4 linked regions of the Homo sapiens genome follow. The protein of the gene in region 1 interacts with the protein of each later gene in a biochemical or structural test. Each region holds a gene or a part of one and is shown in the gene's direction. Other genes may lie near its edges.

Region 1 (5,766 bases):
AGCACTGGCTCCCAGGCAGAAATACTGATACCCTACTGGGGCTTCAGGCTGAGCTCCTCCCTTCACAAATCACTTCATCTCTCTGAGCCTGTTTCTGCATCTGTGACATAAGATGGTAAGATAAAGGTGGCTGTCTCACCAATTATGTAAGGATTAAATGTGGAAAAGGACATAAAGTTGTATAGTGCTGCCATAGGGACAGTGTTCAGTAAACGTGACACATTCTTAGTATCACTAAGAATCAGGTTCTTGGCCAGGCACCGTGGCTCATGCCTGTAATCCCAACACTCTGGGAGGCCTAGGTCGGAGGATGGCTTGAACACAGGAGTTTGAGACCAGCCTGAGCAACATAGTGAGACACTGTCTCTACAAAAAAAAAATAATAATAATAATTGTTTTTAATTAGATGGGCAGGGCACTGTGGCTCACACCTGTAATCCCAGCACTTTGGGAGGCCAAGGCCGGAGGATTGCTTGAGGCCAGGAGTTCAGGAGCAGCCTGGGCCACATTCCTGTCTCTACAAAGAATAAAAAACTTAACTGGGCATGGTGGCACATGCCTGTAATCCCAGCTACTCAAGAGGCTGAGGAGGAGGATTGCCTGAGCCCAGGAGTTCAAGACTGCAGTGAGCCTTGATCACACCACTGTACTACAGCTTGGGCAACAGAGTGAGACCTTGTCTCCAAAAAAAAAAGTTTGTTTTTTTTTATCCACTCTCCTCACCAAACAAACTGAGTAAGTTAGAGCCCTCTCAGCTGGCATGTGTTGGAAACAGTGCCCTCTCATTAAAGTGCTGCCCTCACTCCCATTGCCTCTTGGCCTTGGTCAGTATGATGAAATTAGTGGGAGGCAGGGCAACAGAGGGCAGGGAAGAGCTAGAAATCCATGGCCTGGAAAAGGGAAGATTTGGGAGTGGCCAGGTATCTGTAGAGCCACCATGCAGAGGAGGGGGGCAGCTAGCCTTGTGTGCTCTGGTGGGCATGGTCAGCAGGAGGCAGAGCAAAAGGACAAGGGTAAGTAAACCTGTAGGTCGGGACAAGCCAAGAGCCATCCAGCGTCAGTCCTCTCTGGGTAGCCCAAGTAAAGCAGGAGCATACCCCAGAGAGAAAGTTCGCAGGGCTGTTCACCTGCAGTGCTGTGGACTTCAACCTTCTTGTTCCTTCTTCAGTAAGTGAAAATAACAGTCATTGACCATGACTATTATCGACCGCTTTTGAAAATGTAAACATAGTGACTTTATTGCTGTAAAAATCATACGTGTTTATCATCTTAAAATTCAGGAAACATGGACAGGTACAAAGATGTGCAAAATATCATCCAAAATCCCATTTGCTGGCCAGGCACGGTGGCTCACGCCTGTAATCCCAGCACATTGGGAGGCCGAGGCGGGCAAATCACTTGAGGTCAGGAGTTTGAGACCAGCCTGGCCAACATGGTGAAACCCTATCTCTACTAAAAATACAATAATTAGGCTGGGCGCAGTGGCTCACGCCTATAATCCCAGCACTTTGGGAGGCCGAGGTGGGCGAATCACAAGGTCAGGAGTTTGAGACTAGCCTGGCCAATATGGTGAAACCCCATCTCTACTAAAAATACAAAAATTAGGGCCGGGTGTGGTGGCTCACGCCTGTAATCCCAGCACTTAGGGAGGCCGAGACAGATGGATCGCGAGATCAGGAGTTCGAGACCAACCTAGCCAACATGGTGAAACCCCATCTCTACTAAAAAAATACAAAAATTATTCGGTTGTGGTGGCACACGCCTGTAATCCCAGCTACTTGGGAGGCTGAGGCAGGAGAATCTCTTGAACCTGGGAGGCAGAGGTTGCAGTGAGTGGAGATCCCGCCGTTGCACTCCAGCCTGGGCGACAGAGTGAGACTCCATCAAAAAAAAAAAAAAAAAAAAAAAAATTAGCCGGGCGTGGTGGCGTGCACCTATACTCCCAGCTACTTGGGAGGCTGAGGCAGGAGAATCGCTTGAACCTGGAAGGCGGAGGTCGCAGTGAGCCGAGATCGTGCCATTGCACTTCAGCCTGGGCGACAGAGCGAGACTCTGTCTCAAAAATAATAATAATAACAATAACTAGCCGGGCCTGGTGGCACATGCCTGTAGTCCCAGTTACTCAGGAGGCGGAGGCATGAGACTCAGGTGAACTAGGGAGACAGAGGTTGCAGTGAGCCAAGATCACACCACTGCACTCCAGCCTGGTTGACAGAGCGAGACTCTGTCTCAAAAAAAAAAAATCCCATTTGCTCATTTTTTGGATACTAGTATAACTATCACTCTAAACCAGTTAGTACTTAAATCAAGCAGATATGGGAGATGGTGAATTACCATCTACAGTGTTGTCATATATGTCACATACTGAGCATTATCAGCTAGTAGAATCTAGTTAATTGTTCTATGTGTGATGTATGCAGAGTTCCCATTTTGAATGTGTTTTTACTATGCTTAAATAAATGACTGATGTCAGCAACCCCAAAATGATACATCTGATGTAAGAGCCCCTGTTCCCCAATAATAACATCTAAACTATAGACATTGGAATGAACAGGTGCCCCTAAGTTTCCTCCCTCCAGGGTTTCTTGGCCGGTCTCTGAGGACTACACATCCCTACTCCCGTCTTTCCTCATCTTCAGGCGCAGTAACAGTATCTCCAAGTCCCCTGGCCCCAGCTCCCCAAAGGAGCCCCTGCTGTTCAGCCGTGACATCAGCCGCTCAGAATCCCTTCGTTGTTCCAGCAGCTATTCACAGCAGATCTTCCGGCCCTGTGACCTAATCCATGGGGAGGTCCTGGGGAAGGGCTTCTTTGGGCAGGCTATCAAGGTGAGCGCAGGCAACAATTGCTTTGCTCTTCTGCCCCCAGTCCCTCTGTCACTGTCTTTCGGGGATTTCTCATCACTTGGCCCCACCCCACACCATGCAGGATGCCAGGCCTCCTTCCTGGCTTTGGGTGTTGGTGTGAGAGGTATCCTTCACCCCCACCCAGGCCACCTAAGGTCAATGTTGCTGTTACAGTGAGCTTGTGGACCTGGAGATCCAGGTTGGGTTGAGCTGTGCCTGTGGCCCTCCTGCCTCCAGTCAGTGGGTGTTTGTTAGGTGCCTGCAGACCTCAGTACCGGGCATGCTACAAGGAGCACACAGGGGAATGGCTCCTGCCTCCCTGGTGAACAGTCTCAGGGACTAACCTCTCTCTTTCTCTCCTCCTCCTCCTCTTCTGCTGAGAACTGGGAGGGGGGGTCAGGTAAGACGTGTGTCTCAGCTTGGGGGCAGCAGGGCTGGAGAGCTCACCCCCGATCCACCCAGCTCCCTGGTGCATGTCTTTGGCACTGACCTTCCTGCCCCCAGACTTCTGTTCACTCAGGAGACTCACTTCTATGCCAAATGACCAGAGCCCCTGCTTGGCTTGGCAGCATCCCCTCCTGCCTTCTTCCCCACTTCCCTTTTCTGGGTTCTTGCCTGTCCTCTGTGCATGCCCAGCTCTCCAGGAAAGAGGGTTTGCTTCCGTGTGAGTCCCATGTTGCTCCACGCTGCATCTTCCACACATGAACTCTGTCATTCTGACCCGGCTCAGTGTGCCCTCCAAGGGATGGGATGGCCAGCTGCATAGATTTTCTCAAACAGTTCTCCAGAACTTCCTCTGGTCTCAGCACCATTAACAGTCACCCTCCCTGTAGGTGACACACAAAGCCACGGGCAAAGTGATGGTCATGAAAGAGTTAATTCGATGTGATGAGGAGACCCAGAAAACTTTTCTGACTGAGGTAAGAAGATGGAGGGGGCCCGGGAGGTTGGTGTCACCATTGGAAGAGAGAAGACCTTACAAATAATGGCTTCAAGAGAAAATACAGTTTGGAATTACTGTCTTAAAGACTAAGCAGAAAAGAGCCCTAGAGGAATATCCCACTCCCTCTAAATTACAGCGTAATTATTTGTTCAATGAACACTTACTAAAAGCAACACAAACAGGGTACAAGGGATGCAGTAACAAAAGATACAGGGTTCAGAAGAGCTCTCAGGTTATGAGGATGATGGACATGAAAACACTCCAATTTAGTACAACTCAATGTTATAATCCTCACCTGAACGCCCTGCTAAGGGAGCCTGGAGGGGAGCTCCCTGAGCACTCACACTCCTTGGGCATTTACAGTTTTCACTACCCCTCCCAAGTTACTTCATGGAGTAACTTAAGTTGGGGACACCTGTGGTCTGGGTATTGCCCTCCAAGCCACTTGGCCACTCCCACCCCAGTTCTCCCAATGCAGTTCCAAGGGTAAGGCCTATGAAGCCATCTCCATCTATATGGTGGTGGTCTTCCCTCATCCTGATCTTAGTGCCCTGTCATATCACAAGATAGGAGGTAGGAGATACAGGTGGTAACACTTGTCAAGCTGATTCCTTGGAGGGAAGAGGTAAGGAAGACAGTGAGAAGTTAACCACCAGCTTTCCTTGGCTTCCCCCACCCCCAGGTGAAAGTGATGCGCAGCCTGGACCACCCCAATGTGCTCAAGTTCATTGGTGTGCTGTACAAGGATAAGAAGCTGAACCTCCTGACAGAGTACATTGAGGGGGGCACACTGAAGGACTTTCTGCGCAGTATGGTGAGCACACCACCCCATAGTCTCCAGGAGCCTTGGTGGGTTGTCAGACACCTATGCTATCACTACCCTAGGAGCTTAAAGGGCAGAGGGGCCCTGCTTTGCCTCCAAAGGACCATGCTGGGTGGGACTGAGCATACACAGGGAGGCTTCACTGGGAGACCACATTGACCCATGGGGCCTGGACCACGAGTGGGACAGGGCTCAACAGCCTCTGAAAATCATTCCCCATTCTGCAGGATCCGTTCCCCTGGCAGCAGAAGGTCAGGTTTGCCAAAGGAATCGCCTCCGGAATGGTGAGTCCCACCAACAAACCTGCCAGCAGGGCGAGAGTAGGGAGAGGTGTGAGAATTGTGGGCTTCACTGGAAGGTAGAGACCCCTTCCTATGCAACTTGTGTGGGCTGGGTCAGCAGCTATTCATTGAGTTTGTCTGTGTCACTGAAACTGACCCCAGCCAACTGTTCTCAGTTCACAGCCCTGTTTTCAAAGAATTACACATCTCTAAAGGCAAACAGGGCACGGACAAGGCAAACTGGAGAGGCAAACTGTAGCCTGAGATGGCCTGGGCTTGCCATCACAGGTATTCAGGTGCTGAGGGCCCTTAGACCAACTAGAGCACCTCACTGCCTAGGAAATCAATGAAGGGGAAATGAGTTCTAGCGGAGCCCTGAAGGATCAGAATTGGATAAAGTTCTTATTGGCAGAGAGGCACCAGGATTGAAGTGACAGGAGCAAAGACCTGGGAGGAAAGAGGAGAAAATCATCTATTTCACCTGGAAACAAATGATTCCAAGCATAGAAATAATAACAGCTGACAAGTACTGAGTGCCCTCTATATGCTAGGCACTGGGCTGAGGGATTAACATGCATGTGCATGTTTATTCCTCATGACAACCTTGGTTTCCAGATAAGCTGGACTGGAAAGGGACAGAGCTGGGATCCTGGGCTAATCAGTCTGGTCGCCAAGCCTGAGACTTTAGCCACTGCCCTTCACATGGGGGTCCATGAAAATAGTAGTAGTCTGGAACAGTTTGGGGGTACATCAAGGTCGCTGTGTTTTAAGCTATGGAGTCTGGACTATAGGAGACAAATGTAAAAGAGTTTTTTGGTTGACTGGCTTTTTGGTTTTTTTGTTTGTTTGTTTGTTTGTTTTTTTGTTTTTTTTTC
Region 2 (4,077 bases), on another chromosome or scaffold:
TTCATAGAAATCCTTAAGCCCCTTGAAATTATATGTAGGATTGTTCCCTTTTTGTGTGTCTGTAATTGGATTCTAAATTCAGACTTTAAAAATCTGATTTTTAATATTTGGAGTTTTTATTGCAAGCTAAAAATTTCTTGAATACTACACATACTAAAGATCTTTTTTGCTTATAATAATTTTGCCTTTCATTTGACTAGTTGTCCAAGAAGTTTCAAGGAAATCTGAGTTCTTGGAGATTTCCACTAACTCTGCCCATACCCCTCTATATTTTGTCTTCTTGAGAAGAAGACTTAGTATTAATAGACTCTTATTAGTCTGGCAGAAATATTTCACATGGTTTATCTATTGGAAGAAGGGGATTTATACTTAAAAGTTGGAATATCACATGAAGAATTCAGTAAAAACGTCTTTGAAAGTAAATGATGTATTATACTTATTAATAGAATTGGACTAACGTCACTCCAAATTTCTGTGTATTAAATTCTTAGTTTAGTAAACTGGAAATAAATTCCCTTTTTCAAAATTAGAATTTTCTGAGACATTTATGAGATAGGGAATACCTCTTTTGATTAGCATTAATACTTGCTCTACACAAAGGGAGGGGAAAAGCTTTCTTATTTACATATTGGTATGATCATCTGCATACATTTAGTCTCCCACCTATTTTAAGATCATTGGAACTGCAAAACAGAGACTGTGTAGGGTAGATTAAAATGGTTTTTTAAAAAGCCTTGAAGTATGTCTTATAGGTAGACTAGCAGTTTGGGGTTACTTTGTGTCTATCTTGTTACACATTTTATCTCTATCTTACTTATTGCATGTGCCTCATTCAGAATTAAATAAGAAATATCACTAAGTTTTTCTGCCCATTTGTTAGTTGGTGATAGACTAACAGTATACTTGATGGGCTAAACAGAATCAGAATTTATAAATTGCTATGGCAAATTGATAGTTAAGAGTGCTTCAGATGAAATAATGACCATTTAGCTGTCTGGTGTCCATTGTTTGCAGATTAACTTTGTCCAACTTCACTTCATTCTGATGATGGAACCAAAATACCTGCACAAACAGGATTGTTTTGCCTTTCCAATTATGTTATTATAATTCATGCCTTCTCCTGGGATGATTGTAATTGCTTTCTTAGTTTTGAAATTATGTGTTTTGGTTTATTCATAAATGCAAGAGTAAGAGTCATGCAAAATATTAATCATATTAAGTAGGGTGGAGGATAATGTTTTTAGGTTGGAAACTTTTTTTTCTGTAGATAAACGAGCTGTATGTGATGGAAAACTGACTTCTTGGGCCCATTTTACTTAAAGCAAATACAATAGGTTTGGAATTATGTATTTAAAAGCATGGCATTGGTCCACGTGACATGTTGGGTGTCTTGTTTTCATTTTACCAGACTCTGTTTTTATTTATGTTTTCAGTTTATGATCCTGTCCTTTGTTCATAAGGTACTTAGATGGTTTAAGATGTAGACTTCTTATATGAAGATGTTGCTGTTGTTTTTCCAAAGTAATGGTGGTCATCAGCCCATTTTTCTATTTAGTCTCATGAATAGAATCATGAGTAGAATCTTTCTTAAATTATTACTTGTAAATGGATCACTTTCTTGTTTTCTTTTTCTTAATTGGAGCTTTAAATAAATATGGAACTTGGAACAAAAAGATTTTCAGGAATTTTATGGAAACTAACTTTTTTGACCTAAATCGAAAGGGATGAAAGTTTCTGAAAACCTAACAAAATGTGTGCACAGCCAATTCTTTTAGGGGAGGAAATAGGCAGGGAATGTGTAATTGGCTATTTTAAAAACATATGCCTTCTTTTGTAACTTATTGTTGTTTCAAGTTACAAGATCTTTGAAGGCAAGTGTTTATCTCAAAATATTTGAAAGCTTTTATAGTGCTTAACATACTAAGACGTCCTATTAGGGTTTACTTAGAACAAGCTTATCCAACTTGTGGGCCACATGTGGCCCAGGATGGCTTTGAAAGCGGCCTAACACAAATTCATAAGCTTTCTTAAAACATTATGTGATTTTTTTTTTTAGCTTATCAGCTATCATTAGTGTTAATGCATTTTATGTGTGGCCCAAGACAATTCTTTTTCTTCCAGTGTGGCCCAGGGAAACCAAAAGATTAGACACCCCTGACTTAGAACTTTCCATAGGTTAGGAGAAAGTTGTACTTTCTTGATGTCTATAACCTAGAATTTCTGGTAAAGGAATTGATTGGAAATGTTATTAAAAGTTGAAAATAATTTGGAAATTAAACATTTTAGTGATCAGTTCTTCCATTGAGACTGTGTTGGTTCCTTTACTAGATATGTGCCATCTTTTTAAAAACTTACTGTGTTGCTTCCTTTACTAGAAAATTGCCATCTTTTTGAGCCTTGTCTATTGAGGAACCAAGAACACAGAAAAGGCAGTAAAAAGAAAAAAAAGGATTGTTTGAAGATTGAATGTGCTGTGATGATAGCCTAGGATTATTGTTTTTCAATTTTTGATGAGCGTAAGCATTCTTGTTGACTATATCTTTTGTAACTACTGACCCATTTAGAATGGCAGAATTAGCTGGCAGAGAGATTGTCATTCATTTTAAGCTTTCAATCTCTGACATCTTCATCTTTATTTCTCAGTCTTTTTTACTTATCAGTGGTTTACTCCATTATTTTCTCCCCTTTTAAAATGTCTTTTTTTTTTTTTTTTTACCATGGGGAAAAAAATTAGATGTTTCCTTGGCAGGGCACAATAACACAATAAGGCTTTCATGACTTAACTTTTGATTACCTTTACACCTTCATCTCCTGCTCTTCCATTGCTTGTATGACTATTTGACTCAGTGTCTTGCATGTGCTTCTGCCTGGAATCTGCTCCACTGCCCAGCCCCTCTGAATGAACACTAAACTTTCTAACCTATGTCCATCCTCTCATCTCTCTCTTACTGTTATTTTAGTAAGTATGTTAACACATTTTGATTACGCAGGAATCAGGCCATATTGTAATTATCTGCATGTATGTTTCCTTATTTAACAGAGTAGTTGTGTGTCTTATTTATCTTTAGACCCATCAGTACTTAGTATTGTATCTGGAACATGGCAGGTGTTTAGTAAATGTTTATCTGAATCAATAAGGCAGAAATTATAAATTTTATGTCAGTGTTTAAGCTAGATACATCCAATTTGACAAATCTTTTTTCTTCTTCCTCTTCAGGGGATCTTCAATATTCATGTTATTTTCTCCTTTGGTCTTATATGATTGTTACCTTTATGAAGCTTTAGTGATTACAAAGCACTTTTTTTGTCCATTTTTACCTGAGCTTTGTAAACTCTGATTTGCAGGTAAGGAAATTTAGACTAATGGTTTAACTGAGTGCCTAAGAGCACATAATTAATAAAGGACTCTAAAACTCAGATTTTTAGATTTCTTGTCTAGCATTCATTTCACTGTATAATAGCTGCCATGATTCAAGGTATCCTTTTCCCCTCACTGGATGCAGCTTTTCATTATATAGTTCTTCAGTGTGTTTCTCCAGGGCTGATCTGTTAAGTGCACTGATGGAATTTTTATACATTCCCAAGGTATGTACAAGTAGATGCTTACAAAAAATTTTCATCGGTTGGAGAGTTTTTCCTCTACTTTCATCTTCATATCCCCATTGTCTAGTATGTGGCTTGCATATAATGCACATCATAGGTGGTTAGTGTTTTCATAATTGTTAAATTAAGATATTGCAAGAATTAAAACATGACTTTAATATTATATGTATTTTTTCTTAGGATGGCTGGCTGTGGTGAAATTGATCATTCAATAAACATGCTTCCTACAAACAGGAAAGCGAACGAGTCCTGTTCTAATACTGCACCTTCTTTAACCGTCCCTGAATGTGCCATTTGTCTGCAAACATGTGTTCATCCAGTCAGTCTGCCCTGTAAGCACGTTTTCTGCTATCTATGTGTAAAAGGAGCTTCATGGCTTGGAAAGCGGTGTGCTCTTTGTCGACAAGAAATTCCCGAGGATTTCCTTGACAAGCCAACCTTGTTGTCACCAGAAGAACTCAAGGCAGCAAGTAG
Region 3 (3,967 bases), on another chromosome or scaffold:
TTTGAAATTAACTTTAGGGGAAGCAAGATGATTTTTTTAATAAGAAAAAGAAAAAATGTGAAATATTTCTCTCTTCTTTCTGTGCCACAGTGTCCAAAAAGAGTCCTAAGGATAGATACGGTGTTACTAGATGTTGGCTGAAGCTGGGGTAAAACAGTCCTCAGTCCTCTGGGCCTTTCTGAGGTCAGGGCTTAGCACCATGTGCGCTTCCTAATGAGCCAGGCTTACTGGGTTTAAATTGTTTCCTTGATCACCATAAAAAGAATTATAAATTTTATAGAATGGGTGCTTTTATTCAAACATGTTTAGAGATGTGGATATTTTGGAAATAATTAGAAATCAAAACATGCCATAAAACTTCTGTTGGCTGAAGAGCTATACATAAAGGATAATAGGTGGGTATTTTGCAAGCAACTGAACTGGGATCATAAAATAACAAGTATAACTCTTGCATGGCTAGTAAGTTATTATCACTCAGTTTCAAACGCCTAGTCAAGACATTGAGACAGACTAGTGGGGAAAGCTGCATGATCTCTACACTGTGCCTCTTTAGCCGGGCAGCTTGCCCTCCAGCTTGAGAGTGAGCCCCGGTGTTGACTTTGCTGATTTGTGCAGTGGCAGGCCTGCATGCAGGTAGCACTTGCAGTACTTGGGTCTAGCTGCTCTTCCACTCCCAGCACCTCTGAGATATTTTCAGCACCAGCTGTGTGTCATTTCTAGTTACTGAGCTTTGTGTTTCTGGAGAGGATTTTCCACAGATACTGATGCTGATTTCTCTTTCTACCCCTCTTTCTCTCCTCCTTTGCCTCTCCCTTCAGTCGGCAGCACCTCTTCCTCACCAGCACTGTTAGGAATCAGAGACCCTCGCTCTGAATACGATAGGACCCAGCCACCTATGCAGTATTACAATAGCCAAGGGGATGCCACACATAAAGGCCTGTACCCTGGTAAGACGCCAGTTGGGTGTGTGATACAGTCTCTTGAAAAGCCGCATTTCCAGGCGCTTGGCCAGTGGCCTGGGAAGTAGCCTGTGCTTGTATTGAGACAGTCCCCCAGCAGCAAACCATGTTCCAGTCATTCCCTTTCCTACTTTGGGGATTGTTGCCTTTTCTGCTTGTTTAAAGTAAAACAAGCATGTACTTGTTTGTATGTATGTATGTATGTAGTTGTACGGTGGGCACAAATAAAAAGAGGGCTGTATCCAAATAAATCATTTCTGGCTGCTCACTGGCACAGTCCCTTTGCTCCGTCCCCTCCTGGCTCGAGCAGTCTCTGTGTTTTCCACATGCATCAGAACCGTCAGCCCAGTGTCACTTTGCAGGGGCCACATCTTCTAGACTGGCTCATCTCTTAAATTCAAACCAGAGAATGGAGATCAATTTCATTTACATTTTCATGGAGAAGAGTTTGAATAAATAGCAAAAGGTATAATGTGATTCTTCTCAACGTGATTATTTTTTAAGAATAACAAAAATAATGTTACATAGTGTTAATATTTTTATATCCTATTCAGAAAGCTGTGCATACAATTTATTTAAAGGATACCAGCCCAAAGGGTTACTAAGATTTCATACTGTTCCCATTCTCAACCGTCTGGCGATTATAACTACTTTAGATGTTCCAAATAAGTCAGTGTGAGCTACCCCACAAAAAGTACTCTTTTCTCAAACCTGTCTATTAAAAATAAATAAAAGCTGGTGGCAGCTTTACTCCTGCTGGGGGGGCAGTCTCCATTGTACTGTTGTCTTTGAAATTGTGATTTCACAGGACTATTTACTAATCGACTGTTGTTACTATGGCAATTAATAGCTCAGAAAATTGCAGATGCTACATTTCAACACCAAGCTCTGGGCAAAAGGAAATGCACATACCAACTGAAGTGCATGGTTGCTTCCGATTTGCAGCAGCCTGCTTTATCTTACAGATCACCTCTTTAGCATGCATGCCCTTCTGTATCTTCTTCGCTTGCTTCAATAAACTAATTTGCCTCAACTACGTTTCATTTTCCTCATTAAAAAAATAAAAATCTTTGCTAGCCTTAATAATAATGGAAGGGTAACATCATCAGGAGTCTACTATGGACTTTTGAAGACAATTATCTCATTATTACCAAGTTCCTTTTGTATTAAAACATACTTAAATATGCCAGGTACAAGACTGTGCCTCCATTGTTGCTCCTTCCTTGACCTGAGATTTTGAATCCCAGTTGTTTGTTTGGAAGGCATGGGGCTTGTTCGAATATTGTGTTTCGCTTCTCCTCTCTGACCCACTGCCGTAGCTCAGAGCCCTGGAAAAGGAGTGTTCCTCAGCTCAGGATCCCGTGCTGCTGTCCAAAGCCAGCTGGAGAAACCCTCCCACATGTGAGCAGAGCTTGAGCAGGAACCTTTGCGCATGGGCTCTGCACTGGCATTGCTTTTTGGGGAAACACACACAGCCTGTTTCTGCCATAGTTTTGCCATTAGCCCCCACCAGCCCTGAGGTAAGCAGCAGCCAGGCCAGATCCAGGGACCCTGAGCTGCTACCTCTCCCAGCCCGCATTGGCACTGGGGAAGACAGGCCCTGTCGGGGACAGTGCTAGCCCTAGTGCAGGGGAGACCACCCAGCCTAATGGACCAGAGTAATAAGCACTAGTTTTAATTTCATAAAATATTTTCTTACAGGCTCCAGCAAACCTTCACCAATTTACATCAGTTCCTATTCCTCACCAGCAAGAGAACAAAATAGACGGCTACAGGTGAATTTGCAATATCATTTTTACAGAAGGCTGATTAGCAGTTAACACAGTAAGGGGTCCACGTCGATTGACTTCCCAGAGCTGGGCCAACATGGCAGGGTCCTAGATGCTTTCCCTGGGGATCTTCACTCCTTGGAAACTCAACGTGTGGTTTAAGCAAAGCATTTCCACGGTAGCCTCACGTTCTTGAGTATCCACATCGGTACTGCTGAGACCACCGTGCCACTGATGGGGACAGCCGAGAAGTCTTTAGTTCATGTCTTTTGCCCAGCAGTGTCCTCTTCCCACTCTTTTTCTGTTAAGCTCTAAAATCTCTTCCAGCCTCTGAGTGAGGGAAGGTTGGTAAGCACACTTCATGCCCTCATCACATTGTTCTCTTTTGTGTATACCTCGTTCTCCATCTCGCCCCTCCCTGTCCAAGCTCCACAATTTAAAAACACTGAGTCCATCACCAGGTCTGTTTGTCTCAGTGGTCAAGGTGGACTCAGCCCCTGCCGGGATGGACCTCACTGTGGGAGAGTGGGACTGGCGGTTATAACACACCCAGGCTTTGCTTTCATGAAGGGCCTGCAGTCAGTCTCAGGTCCTTACCAGTGCCATGGCGAACTTGGACCATCTGGTCTCTCCTCTTCCCTTTCAATGACACAGAGCAGCTGGAGTTTCCTAAAACAAGACTGTATCCTGTCCTTCAGATAAGGATGTGTTCTAAGACCTCTCCTTCTCGTCATCTTTTCTCTGTAGGTGGAAGAAAAAGAACTTTCCAAGTTATTCATAATTTATGCTATGGTTTTTTAGTCAGGAAAAATAGACCAGAATCATAACTCTGGCTTGAAAGGAGAATTTAGCTCTGAAATCCTTATAATGTTAGAATGCATTGAGTTCCAGGACATGACATTGGTTTCTATGTGGTAAATTTGTTACATCTTACTAAGTAGGGGGATTTGGGCATAATCAAGAACATAGACATAATAACCATCACAATTTGAAGAAATTAGTGTGAGGTCAAAGCTAAGACTGAACAAAAGGAAATGGAGAGCAGTGTGCCCTGTGTGGGTGCCCACGTGTGCCTGGTCTTGCCCACTTACAGATGGACTTAGCCCTGGCTTGGGGAAGCCTTTTCCTCTAGAACCATATTTGCTCACGTGTGTCTCCTAATTTTACTATTCTTCTGCCTTGAGATTGCTTATTCCTTTAATATTACAACTTACAGCAGAGTTTCCAAAGTGTGACTGT
Region 4 (4,425 bases), on another chromosome or scaffold:
GTCAGGGCTCCCCAGGGACAAGGGATGGCCAGGGGAGGGGGTCTGTGGAAGATTCAGGAGAAAGAAAGGAGAGGCTAGGGTGGTGTGGAGGGGCTGGTCCCCTGACACCTGGGCAGATGGGGTCTCCTTCAGTCTCCCTACCCTGCACAAGCAGGGCCTTGATTTTCCTCCAGGCTTCTCTTCACAAGAGACTGGGAGGATCCGTAAGGGATGTCCTAAGAGCTGCACCCTGGAGATGGGGTGTAGGAAGAAGTGGCTTCCTTTGGAGGTGGGAGTGGGCTGGAGGCCTCTGGAGAAGACCTGGGGTGGGGGCTGATGGGGGCAGGCCCACAGTGAGAGACTGCCTCTGCTTCATAGGATACCAGATCCCCCACAGTCTTCCAAGTAGGAAACTTCCTTTCCCCTGCCCCGGGACCCTATCTGCCTATCCCCTCCCCTGCTCAGAGTTTTTAAGCCCTCTCAACCAGGGCTGGCCACCCTGGTCTTGAGGGTTCCTGGCCACCTAGCCTGCTCCTCTGCTCTCTGGGTTACTGAGGGGCTCAGGAAGGGGCCCCTCGAGCCTTCCTGGAGTACCCGAGTGCTCCCTATGCCTTTCCAAGCATTTCTACTTGGGGAATTGGGCCACAGAGGTAGTGAGCCAGTGTCCTGGGCCTCTGGGATGCCCGCCCCATTGCTGCCAATGCTGGCAGCCCCTCCCCTGGCATGGCAGGACCATCGCCACTCTGGGCACTCCTGAGCCCAGCTCTCCCCTGCTTCTCCCCCTCCTACCTGAGAGGCTGCACCCTCCAACCTCCCATTGGCTCGCTCCCCCCCCCCCACCGTGCCCTCCATCACGCCCTGCCCCCAGGGTGGTTCATTTCCCAGCCCTGGGTCAAGGGCCTGCCTTCGCCTCAGGGACTCTCTTCCTTTGGATGAGGGGGTCCTTGGGTTTCCCAGCTGCTTCCTGCTCAGCTGGGCCACCCCCTCCCACCCTGGGGTTGGGGAGGAGCAGGGAGTGGGTGCCCACAGTTTTCCTTTGCTTCTCCCAGAGCTGGTTTGCACAGCCCTTGTGTGTGGGGCTAGAATGTGCCTTAGTCCTGAATCCTAGCCCTTACCCCCATCCTCTCTAGACGGTATGTCCTGACATAACAGCAGAGTCTGGTGTGGTGCTGGTGAGGGTTCGCCAGCCCTCCCCTCCCCAGGGTCATAGAGGGGGCCATGAGGCTGGAATTGGCCAGTGACTGAATCTTGGAGATGTCGGCCAGGTGCTCCCATTGGGGTTTCTAGCCTGCCCTAGGGGGAGGTGGTGATGTTGGGAGTGGGATCTCCTGAGTCCTTGTTGGGCAGAATTGGTGAGGCCAGGGATGGCAGGGAAAAGTGGTAACAAGCCTCTCTGCCCATCTACTTCCAATCCCTCTCTCCCTTACTGATTTTTTGATGCCCTGTCTTCTGGGCCCCTAGGAGGGATGAGAGAGGAGTAGCCCCCTTTTTCAGAGAGTTTGGGGTCTACCTCAGAGCTCTCCCTGTCAAAAAGCAGCTGCAAGCCTCGCAAGGGTGGAGTGGGGGGAGACTGAGGACCAGTAGTACCTGCAGGGTGCCCGTGGCTGTGGCCAGTGTCCCTTAGCCAACCTGCTGGGCTCACCAGTTCCCCGTCTGATCTGCCTGTGCGCCTCCCATTCTTCTCTACCCAGAACCTGTCATGGGCTGGGGCTCAGATTTTCCTGGCTTTGGGAGCAGACAGACCAGAGCCACCAGCCATTCAGAAAACTTCTTATAGCTACCTTCATGCAAAACTGTTTTCTTCTTCCTTCTCAATGGTGACATTTGAAGAGGCAGAGCACCTTGGGGCTCCTCCTTCTGTCTTAAGAGAAAGCCAAGGCACGTAGAGTAGGGAGAAGAAGGGCACCATCCTCTCTTTCCTCCCCAGGGTCTACTGCTGATTTCTAGATGGATCATGCAGCTTCTCTCAGCTCAGCTCTTTCCATCTACCAAATGGGTGTAATAATACTTACCTACCTCACAGGACTGTTGTGAGGCTTGGCAAGTTTTGTCTAAAAACATCTTTTTGGCTTGGAAAGGGATCTGGGAAGCCAGGTATTAATTGCAGGGATAGTTCCAAGTCTGTCCTGTCTTCATCTCTGTGTCCCATCTCTACAACCCACATACAGACACACACACTCTCTCTCTCTTTCTTTCCATCCCACCCCCCTTGGAATTATTTAGTCTTTGCAATATTAGAAACCTTGACTCTGATGCTTAAAGCTTCTTGTCCATGGCTTTTGTTTGATGGTTTTCAATAGAGGTGACTGAGATTGTAGGGGGGGCATTTTTGGTTGCCCCCATGCGTGGGGGCACTACTAAGAATGCTAAACTTAGTCCCCACAACAAAGAATCATCCTGTCCCATGTCAACATTATACCCATGGAGAAACACTGGCATGGATTTGCACTAGGATGTATATGGGCAAAGCTATCTTCCCCAAGTGGAACCTCAGTGCATGCAAATCTCTGATGGTGGCTTCCAGGGCTTGTGGGCTAGAGAGAGCCACTTACAAAGTCGATCTTGAGAGACCTGGCCACATGCAGCTGGGCTGAGTGATGTCAGCGAGACTAAAGACAAAGTTCTGAGCTCCTCATCAACTACAAAATATGAAATCAGCATTCCAGGTTCTGGGCTTCTCCCCATGTCGTAATTGAACAGAAGGCAGCCCGAATAAACCCCTGATGTTAGAGAGGCCTGGGGAGAGCAGCCGATGGGGCTCAGACTACATATGGCAGGCCGATCAGAGCTCTTGTGGAGCGAGGGCTTGAGAGCATGCTTGTGAGATGGCAGGAGGTGGGGTGTGCTTGTGTGGAGTGTGCGTGTGCAGGCAGTGTGGGTGCATGGCAGCGTAACTGTGGAGTGGATGGGCTCTGCATGTAAGGGGTGATGCATGATGGGCAGATGCTGGACATTTGAGGAGCCGTCTTTCTTGGCCTGAGCTATGCCTGTTGAGGCATCTGGAGACTGAGAAAGAATCAAAGGCAGAGAAGACCAGCCGTGCTCCTGCATTCCGTCACTCCATGACTTCATCTCAGTGTCACAGACAGCTGCCATCAGAGGGCTGGCAGTAGGGAGTTCCAGGAGCGGGGACTTCTCGGGAAAATCCTATAACTTGCTTTACTTTACTTTGTCCCAGGTTGGAGTCCCTACCCTCCCACCTCCCACCTGATATGCAGTGCTTTTGACTATCTTATGCATGGTTTATTCCTCTGGCTTGGATGACAACAATACCCATAGTCAATTTTCCTATGTAACTATAGATCAAATGATGCAACAACAGGCCTTGGGAGGCCTCAGGTGTGCGAGTGCCTCTGGGAGGCGCAGATGCCCACACAGCCAGCACTGACTTGTGTTCGAGCACAGAACGGATATAATCAGTCTGGCCTCTACAACAAGTTTTGCATTGTAGAATTGTATTTAGCTTTGCCTTGGATGAAATAAAAATTATGTTTAATAATTTGGGATTTGGGGGCTTCCATTTTTGACTGGTTGGGAGTTGGGTTCCAGTTTTATTTCTTGCCAGCTGTGCTTAGGACAAGTTTCTTTACCTTCTCTGAGCCTCAATCTGTTTGTGTCTAAAATGTTACCTGCCTAGGTGAAATAACACAGGCAAACTGCCTAAGAACATCTGGCACATTCACAGGTGTTTGGGTCGTTTTCATTCCTATACCTTCTCTGGAGAAGTTGGCAACGTGGCTCTTTAATACTGGAATCATTGCCAGGGCCCTCCTGGTATGGATGACCTTGGTCGTGACCCTGGCACCACAAATATCACAACAGCTCCTCCCCCAGGCTCACTCTCTCCTTCCCTTCCCCGGGTTAGTTAGGTCCAGGTAAAATCCGCTTCACATGAACGCCTACCTTCCAAAGAGTTTCCGGGTGCTGGGCATAAGGCCAGTGCCTGGGAAGGAACTGGGGATATGTACCAACGTGTAGGTGTTTGCTTATATTCTTGGACTTTCTCATACCACAATTTCTTACCATACCGTATTCCTCTCTTCAATGGATTCACCTCACACTGCATTTCAGTGTGAGGTACTCAGTACTTCAGTGTGAGGTACTCAGTATTTCAGTGTGAGGTACTCAGTACCTCAGTACTCAGAAGAGCTTGTTGAAAGACCCTCTCTTCTCCGTCAAGGACTCCAGGTACGCAGAATCAGTTTCGGCAGATGTCCCTGCCAGCTCTGCTTCCTCCAGCCCTCAGCTATAGAGACTGTGCGCTGCACTTCTGCCCTGAATGGATTCACCACCCGGGTTCCCCACGCAGCCACTTTCCTGTCTTCAGGTACTTCCTGTTGCCTGGGACCTCCTGCTACCTTCCCATCTGCAATACACCGGTTGGATATTGGGGTTTCCTGGGGCAAGCCTGGGTTTAGAACACTTGGGATGCTATGCATTGAACTT

What was found. Proteins that work in one complex are often made in the same cells at the same time.
Region 2: the proteins of LIMK2 (region 1) and RNF146 interact in a test that uses a peptide from one of them, tested with the Homo sapiens proteins (one large-scale study listed by IntAct).
Region 3: the proteins of LIMK2 (region 1) and PKP4 interact in a test that uses a peptide from one of them, tested with the Homo sapiens proteins (one large-scale study listed by IntAct).
Region 4: the proteins of LIMK2 (region 1) and SCN4B interact in a test that uses a peptide from one of them, tested with the Homo sapiens proteins (one large-scale study listed by IntAct).

The regions. Positions count from the first base shown.
Region 1 is NC_000022.11:31,263,307-31,269,072, forward strand, and holds part of LIMK2 (LIM domain kinase 2), read left to right. Parts: intron 1-2,639; coding exon 2,640-2,826; intron 2,827-3,677; coding exon 3,678-3,764; intron 3,765-4,469; coding exon 4,470-4,601; intron 4,602-4,837; coding exon 4,838-4,894; intron 4,895-5,766. UniProt on the Homo sapiens protein: Serine/threonine-protein kinase that plays an essential role in the regulation of actin filament dynamics. Acts downstream of several Rho family GTPase signal transduction pathways.
Region 2 is NC_000006.12:127,282,833-127,286,909, forward strand, and holds part of RNF146 (E3 ubiquitin-protein ligase RNF146), read left to right. Parts: exon of another isoform or gene 1-2,516; intron 2,517-3,217; exon of another isoform or gene 3,218-3,345; intron 3,346-3,783; coding exon 3,784-4,077. UniProt on the Homo sapiens protein: E3 ubiquitin-protein ligase that specifically binds poly-ADP-ribosylated (PARsylated) proteins and mediates their ubiquitination and subsequent degradation. May regulate many important biological processes, such as cell survival and DNA damage response.
Region 3 is NC_000002.12:158,675,921-158,679,887, forward strand, and holds part of PKP4 (plakophilin-4), read left to right. Parts: intron 1-818; coding exon 819-947; intron 948-2,660; coding exon 2,661-2,734; intron 2,735-3,325; exon of another isoform or gene 3,326-3,469; intron 3,470-3,967. UniProt on the Homo sapiens protein: Plays a role as a regulator of Rho activity during cytokinesis. May play a role in junctional plaques.
Region 4 is NC_000011.10:118,132,430-118,136,854, reverse strand, and holds the end of SCN4B (sodium channel regulatory subunit beta-4 isoform 1 precursor), read left to right. Parts: 3' UTR 1-3,478; downstream 3,479-4,425. UniProt on the Homo sapiens protein: Regulatory subunit of multiple voltage-gated sodium (Nav) channels directly mediating the depolarization of excitable membranes.